Linked DNA regions of Homo sapiens: region 2 is linked to region 1. Evidence: fine-mapped expression QTL. A gene starts in region 1. The other region holds a variant in brackets. All regions are shown on one strand. Distances are from middle to middle.

Region 1 (4,382 bases):
CTTACGGCCACTTCATGTATTTCTTTTTTTCTTTCTTTCTTTTTTTTTTTTTTTTTGACAGAATCGCCCATGCTGGAGCACAGCAGTGCAATCATGGCTCACTGCAGCCTCGACCTTCGGCTCAATCGATCCTCCTGTCTCAGCCTTCTGAGTAGCTGTGACTATAGGCATGTAATTTGAGAGGCCGAGGCGGGTGTCACCTGAGGTCAGGAGTTTGAGACCAGCCTGGCCAACATGGTTGAAACCCTGTCTCTACTAAAAATACAAAAAAATTAGCCAGGCATAGTGGCACATGCCTGTAGTCCCAGCTACTCAGGAGGCTTAGGTAGGAGAATTGCTTGAACCCAGGAGGCGGAGGTTGCACTGAGCCAAGATGGTCCATTGCACTCCAGCCTGGGCGACAAGCAAAATTCCATCTCAGAAAAAAAAAAAAAAAAAAAAAAAAAAAACTCTCAAATTGAAGGGGACTGTAAGAAGATAGGGTCAGCTCAGCTGCAGTAAGATATAAGTCTCAGGAAGAAGCATGCTCTGGAGTCAAGGCAGAGAAGGACATTCTAGGCCAAAGAAATGGCTGTGCAAAGGTAGGAGGCATAGGGACAAGGGTTATTATTACAACTGTACCTCTTAAATTTACACAATAATTGTTGAGAATATGGCTTTTCCAGGCTAGGAAGTTGTGCTGCATCCAAAAATGCTAAAGTCTATTTCAGCCGGGAGAACACTGACAGCTGGGAAAGGACCACACGTGGCGTGCCCATAACCTAAGTTGTTCAGATTTAGGAAGTGACCCCAGTAAGTCCTTTCGGAGTTTCGTGTAAGATTGACTTCTTCAGCTGGGGGCAGTGGCTCACGCCTGTAATCCCAGCACTTTGGGAGGCCAAGGCGGGCGGATCACCTGAGGTCAGGAGTTCGAGACCAGCCTGGCCAACATGGTGAAACCCCTGTCTCTACTAAAAAATACAAAATTTAGCCAGGTGTGGTGGTGGGCGCCTGTAATCCCAGCTACTCGGGAGCCTGAGGCAGGAGAATCCCCTGCACCGGGGAGGCGGAGGCTGCAATGAGCTGAGACTGCGCCACTGCACTCCAGCCTGGGTGACAGAGTGAAACTCCATCTCAAAAAAAAAAGAAACCAGCCTGGCCAACATAGTGAAATCCCGTCTCTTCTAAAAATGCAAAAATTAGTTGGGTGTGATGGAGGGCGCCTGTAATCCCAGCTACTCAGGAGGCCAAGACACGAGAATCGCTTGAACCTGAGGGGATGGGGGGCAGAGGATGCAGTGAGCCGAGATTGCCGAGATAGCGCCACTGCATTCCAGCCTGGGCAACAGTGAGAGCCTCCATCTCAAAAAAAAAAAAAAAAAATGGACTTCTTCCTCATTGACCTGTGGTGGCTCCAAGGCCATCAAAAAAAAAAAAAATGGACTTCTTCCTCATTGACCTGTGGTGGCTCCAAGGCCATCATCTCACAGCCTTTTTTTTTTTTTTTTTTTTTGAGACGGAGTCTTGCTCCCTTGCCCAGGTTGGAGTGGAGCTGCATGATCTCGGCTCACTGCAACCTCCGCCTCCCAGGTTCAAGCATTCTCCTGCCTCAGCCTCCTGAGTAGCTGGGATTACAGGCGCGTGCCACCACGCCCAGCTAACTTTTGCATTTTTAATAGAGACGGGGTTTCACCATATTGGTCAGGCTGGACTCGAACTCCTAACCTCATGATCCGCCCGCCTCGGCCTCCCAAAGTGCTAGGATTACAGGCGTGAGCCACTGCGCCCGGCCTCATCTCACATCTTTCTTCCTCTGCAGCACACGACACGCCCTAGTTGGAAACAAAGTCGGAGTTTGTGGATTGGGGGAAGGGCGGGGTCTAACCTCAGGTCAGGCGCCGTGCAAGGTACATCTTGGCACCCGGAAGAGGCCCAGTACAGTTGCCCCCGAGGTGACCCGACCTCCCCTACCAATTGAGGCGCCCTTGTTGCCAGGCTTGCGGCGGGGGAGCGGCGGGGGAGCGACGGGGATGCGCTCATTGGTCAAGGAAGGGGCGCCTGTTACTAGAGGCGAGAACCGGAGCCCATTGGTCGGAACACCTCACAATGGACCCCAGCGGCGCGCAAAATCCTTATGATTGGTTTGCTGGCTGCCTCGGGAGACCCTGTTGCCAGGATACTTGGCGTTCCCGACCCGACCCCCGTTCCCCATTGGCTGTCAGGGCAAAAGCCGCCATCTAATGAGGAGCGAGGTGCGGTGCCCCGAAGCGCTCGCTTCCCGCGGTGCGATCTAGTCCTGCAGTAGGCGGCCCGGGGCCACACCGCGGCCGCCCAAGCCAGTGCAAGGCCCAGGGGCCTGACATCGCTCCCAGCGCTCGAGGACCGAGGCCTGCTGTGGAGGACACCGTGCTCCCTCGGGACCTGCTCTGGATTCCGGCCCGGACGTCCCCTTGGAGCTCTGCATCTCCAACCTGGAACCCAACCCAGAAGTCTCAAGTTTGACGCATCACGTGGCGTGCGGATCCACTGAGGGTCCACAGAGAGGGGCGCCCATCTCCTGCGTCTCAGTTATCCTGGTAATTGTGTATCTGCCCATTGTTCGTTGCCTCATTAACTTGGCTTTCTAGGTGCACCCACCTTGCCACCAGAGAAGTCCAAATCCTGACTTCTCTCCAAGGTGTTGGGAATTCTGTGCCCTAAAGAATTCCGACTCAGATCCGAACGGGGATCTGGTGGAATCGAGGGTGAAAGACCAGAGGGACAATGTTCTACTATCCCAACGTGCTTCAGCGCCACACCGGCTGCTTTGCCACCATCTGGTAAGGGCGGGGCCCGTTGGCGCGCGATGGCGGACGCTGCCCGGGATCCCAGCCTGACAGCTCCCCCTCCATCCCCATTCTCCCACCTTCCCCACCCACTTCAGGCTGGCGGCGACTCGCGGCAGCCGGTTGGTGAAGCGCGAATACCTGAGGGTGAATGTGGTGAAAACCTGGTAAGGCCCAGAAAAGGGAAGGAGGGCCTGGTGCGGGGGGTGAGTTAGGGGATGGGGTGGCCAAGACTGTGGGCCCACTCCTGGACGCAGCGGTAATCAGGGCGCATTGTTCCCCAGCGAGGAAATCCTCAATTACGTGCTGGTACGAGTGCAACCCCCGCAGCCCGGCCTGCCGCGGCCCCGCTTCTCCCTCTATCTCTCAGCCCAACTTCAGATCGGTGTGATCCGCGTCTATTCTCAACAATGCCAGTACCTCGTGGGTAAGGCTGGGAACCCTCAAAGGTGGGGCGGGCTGAGCAGCTGTCTGCTAAGCTGGCTGTCTACCTCGTCCTCCCTGCCCACAGAGGACATCCAGCACATCTTGGAGCGCCTCCACCGTGCCCAGCTGCAGATCCGAATAGATATGGAGACTGAGCTGTGAGTGTGCCCTGGGCCTTTGATGGAACACCTGCTAGCTTGGCCTCAGCCTGGCTCAGCCTCAGTCCTTCACGGCCTACATTCTCTCCCAGACCCAGCCTGCTGCTTCCTAACCACCTGGCCATGATGGAGACCCTAGAAGATGCTCCAGATCCCTTTTTTGGGATGATGTCTGTGGATCCCAGACTTCCTAGTCCTTTCGATATCCCTCAGGTAGGGCTCATTCCCCAAGACTCGTGAATTGGCAATGCAGAAGGGGAGTGCTGTCCCTGTGTCACTCTGACATTGGGGTTGGGGAAGGAAGCTTACCACAGCTCTCTCCCACAGGAGATGGTGCAGGGGGACTGCCAAGGTGGACCCATCCAGGCGAAGCCCCCTGTACTTACCTACTCAGGGCCAATCTGATCAGACGGTTTCCCCACTGGAGGCAGCTCTTGTCCCCACTTGTCTCCACACTGTTTTCACTGCCAAGGCCCTAATCCAGGCTCTCATCTCTCTGCACTGGGCTTTCTTACCCCTGTCCTCCTCCATCTATTCCCAATACTCCTACAGCTTAATGTCACCCCCTTCCTTGGTTCCCCATTTGAACAGTGGCTCCTGCTGCAAACAGATTACTAGCATTTGGGGCTCTCCATGCCCCATTTATTTCTTTTTTTATTTTATTACTATTATTATTATTATTTTTGAGACAGGATCTTGCTCTGTGGCCCAGGCTGGAGTGCAGTGGCACGATCTCAGCTTACTGCAACCTCTGCCTCCCCGGTTCAAGCAATTCTCCTGCCTCAGCCTCCCGAGTAGCTGGGACTACAGGCATTTGCCACCATGCCCAACTGATTTTGTATTTTTAGTTGAGACAGGGTTTCACCATGCTGGCCAGGCTGGTTTCGAACCCCTGACCTCATGATCTGCCTGTCTCCTCCTCCTGAAGTGCTGGGATTACAGACATGAGCCACAGAGCCCGGCCCAATTTTTTTAGGGTTTCGCCTTATCGGCC
Region 2 (4,382 bases), 23 kb after region 1:
AGGAATCAGCCCCCCTTCTCCCAGACCCAGGGCCTCCAGCAAAACAATCTCCCCCAGTTTTGCTATCCAGAAAATCTACAATAGAATACGTGCATTCTTGCTAGAGCCACCCTATCCCTTAGGTCTGCCCCTCTGGATAGAAGAGAAGATCCACAGACCTTTTCTGAACAAACTCCCTACCTAGTTCTATCCCATGAGATAAATCCCCAATTCATTTTTATCACCTCACCAGTGCCAAGGGCCAGGAACTGGGCACCCACGCCAAGCACAGCACAGAGCAGACCACGGTATGGGGGGAAGCGGAAGACATCTGTATGGATAATTTTCCAGCCATTGTCACCCTGGTCAAAGTCATCACCAGAACCTGCAGAGGTGGTCTCCTCATCTAAGTTGTACCGAGCCAGGTCATTCCGAAGCACACGCATTAGAATGACAGCCACAAAACCCACCAGTAAAAACACAAGCACCATGGAGTTGATGATGGACAACCAATGGATTTCCAGTGTTCGAGGAAAGAAACCACCATCGTCACCACGGCGCCTGTCACTCCGACGCTCCACTGAAGTCTCAGACCAGCGCACGCTATAAGTGTGGGTAAGGCCTAGGAACTCGTCAGGTCGTAACCCATCCAAGCTGTGGGGCTTGACGTCCCGCACTGAAACATTGGCAAATATAATTCGGTCTCCATGGAATTCTAGGTGGAAGTCCAAATGGGTCCAGAGTCCTATCTTGTGGCTGTGTGGCAGGAAACCACTCTCCTCCATGTAGCCCACAAAGCCCCGGATTGGCAAGTCATCTACCACAAATTCAAAGTAGTACAGTTCTTCAATGGCCTGGCGCAGCTGCTCCACCTATAAAGAGCAAGTCAGGAGTTGGTCACACAAGATCTCCCCAGGCGCAGAGTTACAGCAAAGTTTCTCACCTTCAGCACTACTGATATTTTGGGGTGGATAATTCTTTTTTTTCGAGATGGAGTCTTGCTCTGTCACCCAGGCTGGAGTGCAGTGGTGCGATCTCGGCTTACTGCAACTTCTGCCTCCTGGGTTCAAGCAATTCTCCTGCCTCAGCCTCCCGAGTAGCTGGGATTACAGGCGCCCACCACCACACCCAGCTAATTTTTGTATTTTTAGTAGAGACAGGGTTTCACCATGTTGGCCAGGCTAGTCTCAAATTCCTGACCTCATGATCTGCCTGCCTCGGCCTCCCAAAGTGCTGGGATTGGTCGGGTGCGGAGGCTCATGCCTGTAATCCCAACACTTTGGGAGGCCGAGGCGGGCAGATCACGAGGTCAGGAGATCGAGACCATCCTGGCTAACACGGTGAAACCCCGTCTCTACTAAAAATACAAAAAATTAGCTGGGCGTGGTGGCGGGCGCCTGTAGTCCCAGCTACTCGGGAGGCTGAGGCAGGAGAATGGCGTGAACCCGGGAGGTGGAGCTTGCAGTGAGCCGAGATTGCGCCACGGCACTCCAGCCTGGGCGACAGAGCAAGACTCTGTCTCAAAAAAAAAAAAAAAGTGCTGGGATTACAGGAGTGAGCCACCACACCCAGCCTGGGTTGGATAATTCTTTGTCATAGTGGGGTTATCCCGTGCACTGTAGGATGTAGCTTTCCTGGCCTCTTCCCATTCTATGCTGGTAGTACCCCCCCAGCTGTAACAACAAAAAATGTCTCCAGACATTGCTAAATGTCCCTTGGGGGACAAAACTGTTCCCTGTTGACAATCACTGGGTTAGACTCTAGTATGTTGAGATTCTCCAAAAAAGAGCAAGTATGGCTTGACAGGGTTAAGGCCTAGAAAAAGGAGAGCGGTGAGGTATAAGGAGGTCTGGAGTGGAC[TA/T]AGGAGAAGTACCAGGATTCACTAAAGAAAAAGCATGACAGGGAAGTTTAGGTAGAGACTACAGGAAACAGCTAAGAAACAGCCAAGAGGTAGGCATGGAAGGAAACAGAACTATGTGGGACTGATAGTTGGGACCTCATGACCAACAGAGAAGCTTGCAGTAAGAAACCCTGGGCTCTGATATCAGTTCTGCAAATCACTGTCCATGTAATCTTGAAAAAAGTAACTTCTGAGCAAGTATGTATCTTAGTCAACTGAATTAGAATAGCATCACCTAACCTGCCTGCCACACTGGGTTGTATTGTAGTTAGAATCAAATCAGACAATTTCCATAAAGGTACCCTGAACCATAAATGTAAGGCACTGTTAGTCTCTGGGAAGGAGGGCTACGTGATAGCCAATGTGGAGAGGCTGACCTGTGCAGAACTGAGCTGCATGTGGCACAGAATTCTCTTCTCCACGTTTTCCCGAAAGCGGATCTCATACAAAGACTCAGCCATTCGGTCCCCATCCAGCACTTCACCCAGGCTAAGGCTTTTGTGACGTATCTTCTCAGGGCAGCAGACTGGAAGCTGATAGTAGTGGTAAGTTTCCTGAGGGTTATGGTAGGGTCCCACTTTGTTGACATACAGAATAACAGGGTCGCCGGCCTTGTAGTGTGTCACGCCTTCCACCCCTGGCCCATGGCCTGTGCCCAGCAACAGTATCAGGATTGGCAACCACTGGCAGCTCCAACTTCGAGGGTTCCCTACGACTGTCATCCTTAAGGCAGTGGAACCTGTTTGGGGGAATCCTGAGGTTATAGAAACCAGGGAGGTTACAGAAACCCCAGGTCAGGTGCCTCGAACTGAGGTCCCCTGGCTCCACTTGCTCCCATTGGCCCCCTCCCCGCCTCACCCTACCCCACGTCTCTCTATCCCAAAGACCCCGCTCCACCTCTGCTCTCTCATCCTCCCAACCTGGGGTTCACCCCACCCGCAGCCCGTCTGGCCCGGGGCCTCTACTACGCGCCCTGGCCCGTTTCCATGGCAACGCCGCTCGGTCTCGCACCTCGGGTCCCTTCCCGCCACAGCCCCGGGGTCCTCACCGCGCGGGAAGGGCTGGCCGAGGCGGCGCCAGCGGCCTTCGCGCCCCCGTAGCTGCCTTTGGGCTCCTGCTGGGGTCTCTCCCACAGCGGCGCGGTAGCGGCGGGTTGGAGAGGACCTGCCGACCGACTTCTACGGGGTTGCCCGTTGCTGCGCCTGACAGCGGCGGCTGCGGCTACACCGCGCTGGACACCGCTCTGGCTTACTCAAGAACTCCCCGTTGCGCCTTCTCCATCTGGAGGCCCGGCCCAGCTCCGGGGACCCCGTGAGGCTCGGCTTGCCCCGCCCGTCTTCGGCGAGGCGGGGGTCCTCCCGGCGATCGGCAGCGCGGCCCAGGACACGTCAGTCTTACCACTTCCGCCCTCACCGGCGGCGACCTCAGCCTGGCGGAAAGCTCCTTGCCTGGAACGCAGAGGGCCTTCGCTGCTGCGGCCCCTGGGGACTCCTTCGCGACGGCTTCCCGGGGAGGGGGCTGAGGCCTGGCAGCGAGGACCCTGACACCCCTTCGGGAGAGGAGTGGCTGCTAGGCCGCTCGCTTGCTCCTGGAAAGATTTGGGGTTTGAGAGCTCTTGGCCAGGAGGCTCGCGCTGGCCGAGGCCCGAGAGCTGTCCCCGCGGGACGGGACTAGCGAGGGCCGGGGAGATGGAGCGCAGGCGGCGTCTGGGTTCGAAGCACTTTCCGGCTGAACCACCTGCTGCTGAGGCTGAGCCCTGAGAGGCGGTTCGTGGCCCCCAAACCGGGGAAGGGGCGAAGCTTTGGGCATCTGTCCCATGCAAGGGTCCCAACATCTGAATCTCACCTCACTCGTCTCCCACCTGTCACGAATGGCCAGCGCCAAAGTGATAAATATGTAATAGGAATGTCTTCCCGAGGCTGTGCTGGAGACTTCCCTGGCCGCACAGTGACCGTTCAGAGCCCACGATAAGCAAGCCGAAACCCGGTTTGGCGCAGAGGCGCGCAAGGAGAGAGGTCTGTCCTTTGACTCTGTGAGTTGGGCAGCCTAACATGGTTATTGTTAATTGACGGTAAAGTATCTCGAGGTCCGTTAGTCTATGTTTTTGTTCTTATTTATCACTGTGTATGTCTTTGGGCTTCTCTTCACTTTGTATGGCAGATTATTTTGAAAAAGTTTACCCTTGTGTTTGTCTCAGCTGTTTTAAAGGGGATCTGCCGTCTAGGGAGTTCCCCTTGAAAATCGGACCTTTGAGCAGTGACTTCTGTTTTGCCACCTGGGAGCAACGTGTAAGGAAGTGGACTTAAGCTTCTCTCTCCCCAGGGGAAGAAGCACAGTGGAAAAATCACAAGTGACTTCTGGCCTGAAAAGCCCTTAATTTACCTGCTTCTACAATTACTGCCCTTTCTGACCCAGTTCTTTCCCTGCAGATATAGGTGAGGTTCAAAGAAGCAGATGGTGGAGTTTTGTTAGACAATCAGTGAATTTTCTAATTAGAAAAAGA

Evidence for each region. PIP is the estimated chance that this variant, and not a neighbour inherited with it, causes the effect. A credible set is the group of variants that fine-mapping cannot tell apart.
Region 2: its variant is the best candidate, but not a certain one, in a credible set for the expression of REC8 in blood mononuclear cells (TOPMed, PIP 0.50).

Annotation. Positions count from the first base shown.
Region 1 is chr14:24,169,811-24,174,192 of GRCh38, forward strand. REC8 (REC8 meiotic recombination protein) reads left to right here and starts at 2,270. Exons shown (of 19, transcript NM_001048205.2): 1 at 2,270-2,798; 2 at 2,903-2,971; 3 at 3,089-3,231; 4 at 3,316-3,388; 5 at 3,481-3,601. The coding sequence starts at 2,743. RefSeq lists enhancers at 1,682-2,182, 2,251-2,500 and a silencer at 2,031-2,080.
Region 2 is chr14:24,192,419-24,196,800 of GRCh38, forward strand. TM9SF1 (transmembrane 9 superfamily member 1) reads right to left here and starts at 3,023. Exons shown (of 6, transcript NM_006405.7): 1 at 2,928-3,023; 2 at 2,257-2,618; 3 at 230-851. The coding sequence starts at 2,601. RefSeq lists enhancers at 2,603-3,302, 3,372-3,431, 3,682-3,921 and silencers at 2,792-2,971, 3,112-3,171. The variant TA/T (reference allele first, on the strand shown) is at 1,840.